Linked DNA regions of Homo sapiens: regions 1 and 2 are each linked to region 3. The links come from fine-mapping of genetic effects on gene expression. A gene starts in region 3. Each other region holds a variant in brackets. All regions are shown on one strand. Distances are between the middles of the regions.

Evidence for each region. PIP is the estimated chance that this variant, and not a neighbour inherited with it, causes the effect.
Region 1: its variant is fine-mapped to the expression of TESC in thyroid (GTEx, PIP 0.99).
Region 2: its variant is fine-mapped to the expression of TESC in whole blood (INTERVAL, PIP above 0.99).

The regions. Positions count from the first base shown.
Region 1 is chr12:117,068,106-117,070,860 of GRCh38, reverse strand. The region is part of intron 2 of TESC (tescalcin); the gene reads left to right. Among named protein-coding and RNA genes, the nearest start is that of TESC, 30 kb to the left of the region's middle. The variant C/T (reference allele first, on the strand shown) is at 1,657.
Region 2 is chr12:117,060,582-117,063,336 of GRCh38, reverse strand. All of the region lies in intron 2 of TESC (tescalcin), which reads left to right. Among named protein-coding and RNA genes, the nearest start is that of TESC, 37 kb to the left of the region's middle. RefSeq lists enhancers at 1-147, 148-924. The variant G/A (reference allele first, on the strand shown) is at 1,556.
Region 3 is chr12:117,098,314-117,101,068 of GRCh38, reverse strand. It overlaps TESC (tescalcin), which reads left to right and starts at 1,653. Exons shown (of 8, transcript NM_017899.4): 1 at 1,653-1,844. The coding sequence starts at 1,787. TESC-AS1 (TESC antisense RNA 1) reads right to left here and starts at 1,602. Exons shown (of 3, transcript NR_120464.1): 1 at 1,425-1,602; 2 at 429-616. RefSeq lists silencers at 437-654, 1,521-1,659, 1,398-1,917, 1,978-2,087, 2,158-2,257.

The DNA.
Region 1 (2,755 bases), 30 kb after region 3:
TAGCTGGGACTACAGGTGTGTGCCACCACACCTGGCTCATTTTTTGTATTTTTGTAGAGATGAGGTCTTACCATGTCGCCCAGGCTGACTTCAGTCCTACAGAACCCCATAGGAAGTAGAGGTAGGGACGCTCACTCTCCCCATTTTACAGATGGGAAAGTAAGGCTAGAGAGAGAGGCCATGTACCTGGCCCTGGGTCACACAGCTCATAAGTGGAGGAGCTGGGGTTTGAACCCAGCGCCAAGATCCTGCTGTAGGAAGCCAGGGGCATTGTCTTGATTTGCAAGTGATCTCTAAGGACCTCAGTCTTCCTGCCCTGCTACTGGGGGTGGGGGAGGTGCGTTTATAATTCCCGTCACCACTGCCTTGGTCTCAGAGCTTCAGAGTCGGCTTCGAGGTTCGTGTCAGCTGCACATAGTGACAGCCCCAGCCCAGCCTGCAGGAAGGAGGTGACTGACCACAGCTTCTTATGCAAACAGGCCTACAGGAAGGGCCTCCTTCCAGCCTCCCAGAACTGCTTTGCCTAATCCTAATCCACCCTCCAGGGCCTAGAGAAGGGAGATGAGGTAGCTTTTCAAGGTTCCCCTGGCCTTTTCCTGCCCATCTTCCCCTGAGCAGCCCTGGCTTGGGAACTGATCCCCAGTGCTGTCCCCTCTCTGCCAGGGGTTTTCTAAGTGACCCCAGGCCCGGTCTTCAACCTCTCAGATCCTGGCACATCTTGGAAGCTGTCCAACAGGCCCTGGGCTGTGCTGGGTTTTCAGAGCATGGACAAAATTCCTTTTCTTTCTGGGGACATTCCCCCACATGAAAATGGCGTTGATTGGGGTTCCCTAGTGAAGGCCCCTGGCACCCCACTACAATCTGCGATGGGGGAGAGGGTGCCACCTCCTTTGCCCCTTCCCGCTCAGACAGCGAAGGACCCACGTGCTTATGAGGATCCCACAGGAGGCTCGTGAAGACCTTGAATGCAAAAGTCCCCTTAAAAATGATCATTCAGAACCACAGGCTTTAGATACAGATGAATAAGATTTGTAAGTTGCACTTAGAAGTTTAAAGAAGAACTGGATTTCTAAATGTGCGGCTTGACAAATTGAATATAGCTTTACAAACTCTCATGAGGCAATTGATGGACCAAAATTGATTTTGTTTTTAAGCCACCGTTTCTTATCTGTGTTGGGCCTGGTCCCATCTCTTTCCAGAAGTCATCTGAGGACATCTAGGGGAGGGTTCGTCTTGCGGCATTGAAAGCCCCACTTCAAGGCCTTACTTTTGCGTGGGTTCTTTACACAGCCCGGTACCTGATTTTTAGACATTCATATTGTTGGCCGGGCGCAGTGGCTCACTCTGTAATCCCAGCACTTTGAGAGGCTGAGGCTGGCGGATCACTTGAGGTCAGGAGTTCCAGACCAGCCTGGCCAACATGGTGAAACCTCGTCTCTACTGAAAATACAAAAATCAGTTGGGCGTGGTGGTGTGTGCTTGTAATCCCAGCTACTCGGGAGGCTGAGCAGGAGAATCGCTTGAACATGGGAGGGAGAGGTCGCAATGAGCTGAGATCATGACACTGCACTGCAGCCTGGGTGACAGAGCGAGATTCTGTCTCAAAAAAAATTTCATTTTGTTATGTTCCCTTTTTAAAAGAGGGAACCCCCAAAT[C/T]GTATATGCTTCAGGATCCTCAAGACCTGAATTCATCCAGACCACAAAGCACTGAATTTCTGTGGCCTCTCGGCAAAATGCCTGAATAGAAAAGAAAAAAAAAAAAGGAATTTCTATCTAATTCTAACACGTTCATTAGCCACCTACCATTCGGGGGGCTCTTCCCCTGTACACTCAGAAATTTTCCATCTAGCAGAGGCGACCTCCACAGGTAAACCTGTTAAAAGGTCAGAATTTTAAATAATGAAGAAAATACAGAAATAGCTTCTTGCACTTTTTCTTTCTCTTTTTGGGCCCCTTAACTGGTAAATGTTTTAAACAACAATTTTTAATTTCCTGATAGCACGCTGGCAGGCTTATAAATGCCAGAAATAGACGCTATGGAATACTTCAGATGTAGTGGTGCAGGCCATTAGGAGGCATGATTAGATAAAGCCACATTACAAAAAATATTTTTAGGTTCATCGAGCCATTGACTGTGGAGTAATTCCGGAGGTAAATGCAACCACAGACGTACACAGGGAAGAGAAAAAAAAGGGACTCCATGCTCCATGTCAAATGCCACCAACGTGCAGCCCCATGTTCTGATAGCCCAGACAGTGGGGCGTCAGCAAAATGTCCTAACTCCAGGTCCTGTTTTTCTTCCTTCAGCAGTGTTCCTTTTGTTTTTCTCTTTGAGACAGAGTCTCGCTCTGTCAGCCAGGCTGGAGTGCTGTGGCGCGATCTTGGCTCACTGCAACCTCCCCGTCCCAGGTTCAAGCAATTGTCCTTCCTCAGCCTCCCAGGTAGCTGGGATTATGGCACCCACCTCCACACCTGGCTAATTTTTGTATTTTTAGTAGAGGCAAGGTTTCACCATGTTGGCCAGGCTGGTCTTAAACTCCTGACCTCAGGTGATCCACCCGCCTCGGCCTCCCAAAGTGCTGGGATTACAGGTGTGAGCCACCACACCCAGGCCCTCAGCAGTGTTCTTACCACTGCTCTGTCATTTTTTGAAGTTACCACAAGATTGGCCCAGTGCAGTAGCTCACACGTGTAATCTGAGCACTTTGGGAGGCCGAGGTGGAAGGATTGCTTGAATCCAGGAGTTTGGGACGAG
Region 2 (2,755 bases), 38 kb after region 3:
TGAGAGCAGATGCCTCGCTCTTTCTCTCTTTAACGTAAAAATGCGCAACTGGAAGGAAGGAAGTGGTGAGAGTGAGGAAGCGCAAGATGGTTCGAGCCAGCCTGGAGGCAGAGCTGGAGTCCCGCGCCAACTCTAGCTGTGTGACTGGGGCTTAGTCTCTTTGCCTCTCTGGGCCTTGTGTTCTGGTCTGTAAAATAGGATCATCATTGTTGCCACTCATGATTATGTGGGGGTGATTAAGTGTTGCAGTGCTTAGCACAGCTTGATGTCACGCGAGCCCTTCATGACTCCAGGGGGACATTCTGAAGCCCCGAGGGCTCAAGCTCTCCCGCAGGAGGCCTGGAAGGTGTGTGGCCCTGGAGCCCTCCTGGGCAATCCCCGCTACCCCTGATGGTCACTGGGGCAACACCACTGGCCATGAGAATCAGCTCTGGCTGAGGGCAGTGACCTGCCGTCAGCCCTGGGCTCTGAGGTGAGGCAGAGCCTGTTCCCATGGCTGCAGCCTGGGCTGCGACACCTTTAGAAAAGCCGGTTCATCCAGCCCGGCGGGGACCTAGGGAGGAAGGAAAACAAAACTGACACGAGTATTGATGGAGCATGAAACTGATGAAATGAAAAGGTTAGCCTGTCCTAAGCGCTGGACTCAAGGCCGGTGCTCTCCTTGTTGAAAAGGGACATTGGCAGGTTTTAGGGAAAGTCCCTGAAGGCCAGGCACCAACCACCATGCCACTGCCTGGGTCCGCCAGTATCATTCTTAACAATGAGAAGTGGCTTCATCTCTCTGCCTCAGTTTCCTCATCTTTAAAATGGGCACAGGCCGGGTGCAGTGGCTCACACCTGTAATCCCAGCACTTTGGGAGGCTGAGGAGGGCAGATCACCTGAGGTCACGAGTTCGAGACCAGCCTGGCCAACATGGTGAAACCCCATCTCTACTAAAAATACAAAAATTAGCTGGGCATGGTGGCAGGTACCTGTAATCCCAGCTACTCGGGTGGCTGAGGTACAAGAATCACTTGAACCCAGGAGGTGGAGGTTGCAGTGAGCAGAGATCACGCCACTGTGCTCCAGCCTGGGCGGCAGAGTGAGACTCCGTCTCAAAAAAAAAAAATTAAGAAAATAAAATGGGCATAAGTACCTACTTTATAGGGTTGTTGTGAACCCTATGTAATAATGTAAAGCTCTTAGAATAGTTCCTTCCATTTTGAGGGTACGTAGGTTAGCTGCTGTTACATTATTATTATTACTACTATTAATACTGCTGCAGCGATTACTGTTACTGCTGCTGCCGTTATTACTGTTATTATTTTAAAATTAAGAGCTCATCCTGTGTCAGGCAGCCTACTCAGCATCTTATGTGGATTTATCTCATTTGATCATCTCATTAGCCCCATCATGTTACCTGGATATTCCTATGATCCCCATTTTACATATGAGAAATCACGGCTTGAAGACATGCTGTGATTACTCAAGACCATGTGCCTGGTAAGGGGCAGAGCCTGGGCCAGCACCCCTCTCCCCACCTTGTGTTTGACCCTGAACCATCCCCTTTGATAT[G/A]GGAAGGATTAGGTCTGCACCCATCTCACAGATGAGGAAACTGAGGCTCCAAGAGTCAGGCACCAGTGGTGAGGGGGAGGTGAGAGTCAGGTGTGGATGTAGCAGGTGCCTATGGAGAGAGAGAGAGAGAGCAGAGGCAGCGGGCTTCAGAGCCATTTACACACCCACTGGGGGTTGTGAAGCCAGCACCTGGGGACACTGTGTCCCCAGCTCAATTCCTAGCAGGTCAAGCATGTCTTGTTGCTGCTGGTTGGGGACAGGCCTCTTGTGTTGAGTTAATTTCTTCTCCAGGCACATGGGTCAGGCTCTTCTAGGTGGTTTCTCCCCCACCTCTCCTCCCTCTCTCCTGGGACATTGGGGTCTGCTCTCCTTCCAGGGTCTGGACACCTGGGCCCTGGGGAAGGCACCTGGGGAAGGGCAGTGCCTCAGGATGGGCCAGACAAAGAGGGAAGCCCTGCGTGCAGCCATCTTCATTATTCGCTTCATTATTCGCTCAGCAAACCATTTATTGACCACCTTGCCAAGCCCAGCAGTGCAAGGCACTGAGGACGGGGTGCTGTGGACATCACAGGGTCCCCATCCTGCAAGGTGCCATCTGTGGTGCACTCCCAGTTCACCAGACACCGTGCTGAGCATGTTGCAGACTTTATCTCCTCTAAACTGTACGGCAACCCTGTGAGGTTCCTGTTTGCAAAGGAGTAGACAGAGGCTGGGTGAGGCAACGCCGTTTGACCCAGGTAGCAGAGTAGGGTAGAGCCCAAGTGTGATTCCAGAGGCTGTGCCCTTCACCCTCTGTCAGTATCAGTGTGCCCTCCTCACAGACGAGAAAACAGACTCAGGAAGGATTAGCAACAGCCAGTGAAAGCCAGAGAGGGTTTGGCTAGCAGCATAGCAGCCAGCGGCTTCTCTGTTCTCCCAGATTCCCTCTGGAGCTCCACGTGGTCCCTTTCTCAGGGATCTGGGCCTTGGAAAATGGATTCTATTCGGATGGCCAGGGAGAGTCGGGCAGCAGGGTATCTGGTAAGAGCATGGCTGTACGCTACCTGGCTTCCAAGCTGACTCTTCCATGCCCCCACTGGGTGAGCTGGGGCAGGTTGCCGAACCTGTCTGTGCTGAGCCTGAAGCGTCGTGGATAATAGGAGCCCTTGTGGGGTCTCTGGGAAGCGAGGTGGCTCCGGCCAAGTTGCTTGCACGGTTGTG
Region 3 (2,755 bases):
GCTGGTAGAGCTGGGGTCTTGCTATGTTGCCCAGGCTGGTCTCAAACTCCTGGGCTCAATCCTCCTGTCTCAGCCTCCCAAAGTGGTGAGATTACAGACATGAGCCACTGCACCTGGCCAAAAGCTGGATTTGCAACCAGGAAGGGGCTGATTCTGATGCTCTAGGAGGTTTTAGGACCAACTCCCACCCTCTACCTCGGGCTCTGAAAGTCACCTCCTGCCCCTGGAAAGGGCTGTGACCCTTGGCTTGAGCCTGTAGTCTGCAGGAATGAACAGCAGTTCTCAGCAGCCCCCTTCCCAGCAGCCTGTGAAACTGATGGAGGTAGGTCCACCCGAGTCCCCTCTGTGGGCACCGAAAAACTCCTGCCCCCTACCCTGTCCCCCTTCCTCCCCAACATTTATCATCGAGACTAACGTTCAGAACAGACCTGATACCTGACGGTCATTGATGGTGGTGTCACTAAGCACTGCAGAGCCTTCAGGAGAGCCTTGACCTTGATGTTCTGCCCTGGCTGTGTGCCTCTCCAGGGGACAAGATTCCATAGCGCCCACCAGCCTCTGTGGCCATGTGCTGTGTCCACGCCAGGCCCTCTGGTGGACATCTCATTAACTTATCCTTATTTTAAGGAGGAGGAATCACATTACACAGGCAACAGCATCGGCCCCAGTCACCCCAACTGGATGGAGAGCCAACCCCTCAAGCCATCTTAACCCAGAACTTCCCTAATGGGCATGGGGACCACCGGCATTGCCTTCTCTCCAGCAGTTTGTCCCAAATGCAGCCTCCTGGGCCCACTTCTGCAGTTGTTTTTTTGTTTGTTTGTTTTTTGAGACAGAGTCTTGCTCTGTCGCCCAGGCTGGAGTGCAGTGGCAAGATCTCAGCTCACTGCAACCTCTGCCTCCCAGGTGCAAGTGATTCTCCTGCCTCAGCCTCCGGAGTAGCTGGGATTACAGGCATGTGCCACCGCGCCTGGCTAATTTTTGTGTTTTTAGTAGAGACGGGGTTTCACCATGTTGGCCAGGCTGGTCTCGAACTCATGAGCTCAAGTGATCCGCCCGCCTTGGCCTCCCAAAGTGCTGGGATTACAGGCGTGAGCCATGCGCCCAGCCCGCTCCTGCAGTTTGAGGTGCCTCTCAGCCACCGGGCTGTGCAGGGCCCACACGGGCCGCCACGTGGGTGTGTTCACCTCAGAAGGTGCTGGGGCTTTCCTGGAAAAAACCAAAGCGCATGGTGCATTTTCAAATAGGATTATTATTACTGTTGTTCTCCATAGAGCTATTTCATGCTCGCTGACTTCCTTGACTATCTCAGTGGAGTTTCCCTCCTAAGATCTGGAGGATGTAAGGTGGGATGGGTTGGGAGTGGGCATAGCACCTCCCAGGGGTCCCACCCCTCCTACCCACGCCCCCAAATTTGCTCACACCTGCTTCCTTCCAGATCCAGCAGGTGTGCGGAAGGGACGAGGTACGTGAGCACTGCTGCACGAACGGGGACTCCAGAGCGGTGGGCTCCGGGGTCCCCTTCCCGGCGGTTTCCGGGCCGGGGCGGGGCGGGGCGCTCCCCTAGCCGCGCAGTGCGCGAAACCGGCGTGCGCTAGGACCGCGGCGCGCCGCCCTCCGCCGTTATATGAGGCCCCGCTCCGGCCCCACGCGGAACCCGCGGCTCCGAGCCTTCGCCGGCGTCCCGACCCGAGGCCGGACCCGAGGCCAGTCCCGCCGCTGCGCAGCCGAAGCCAGTGCGGGGCCTGAGAGGGACGCGCGCCCCGGGGCCCCCGCCGCGGGCACCATGGGCGCTGCCCACTCCGCGTCTGAGGAGGTGCGGGAGCTCGAGGGCAAGACCGGCTGTGAGTACCCGCGGGGGGCGGCGCGGGGACCGGGGCGGGACCTCCGAACGGCCACTGTTGGGGACCCCGGCCCGCCGCCGCGCTGTGTGACCTTGGGCCAGTGGCGGGCCCTCTCTGCGCCTCAGTCTCCTCCTCTTTCAAATGGGTCCCCGCTGGCCACCTCGCGGGCTGCGGCGAGGAGCTCCGCGGCGATGCTCAGTGCCGCAGCCGCTCAGCTTCGGACTGGCCCGGGAACTCCCTGGCCGGGGGACTGCGGACCGGGGAGGGAGCGGGGCCCAGGCTTCCCAAGCGCAGGGCAGGTGCCTCAGGCCGGGCGGGCAAGTCCCTCAGGCACCCCCGCTGGCGCGCGCGCCCCACACCTGAGAGTCGTTTGCATTCGTGAGCGCGAGAGCGGAAAGTTTTGAAGTCGGCGGACCTGGGTGGGAACAGGTCTCCGACGCTCCCCGGCCGGGTGACCTTAGTCGGGAGAGCCGGCGCCCGGCGCCTGCTTTCGTCCTCGCATCTGTAAAATGGGTTCAGGCAGCCTCATCCCCGCGGGTGGCTGGGAGACTTAGCGAGGCAGCGGCCGCAGAGCACTTTGCCCGGAGCCCAGCGTCCTCCCCTGAGTTCGCTGAGTCTCCCGGGACCAGCAAAGGCTGCGCGCCCCGCATCGGCCCGGAGGCGGGGAGCCCTGGGAGGCCTGGCCGAGCTGCCCGCAGGGAAATGGCGGAGAAAGCGCTTCTCTGCCCGAGTTCAGCCGGGCTGGGGACTTGGCCCTGGGTCCTGAACTCGGCATGGCCAGTTCTGCCTCTGGCTGTGGACCAGGGTGTGGACTGGAGACCGCGGGGGCCAGGTGTGTGGGCAAACCGGCTTTGGCGAGCGACAGACCGGCTGTGAACCCTGCCAGCTGCACTTCCTGGCTGTGTGACCTT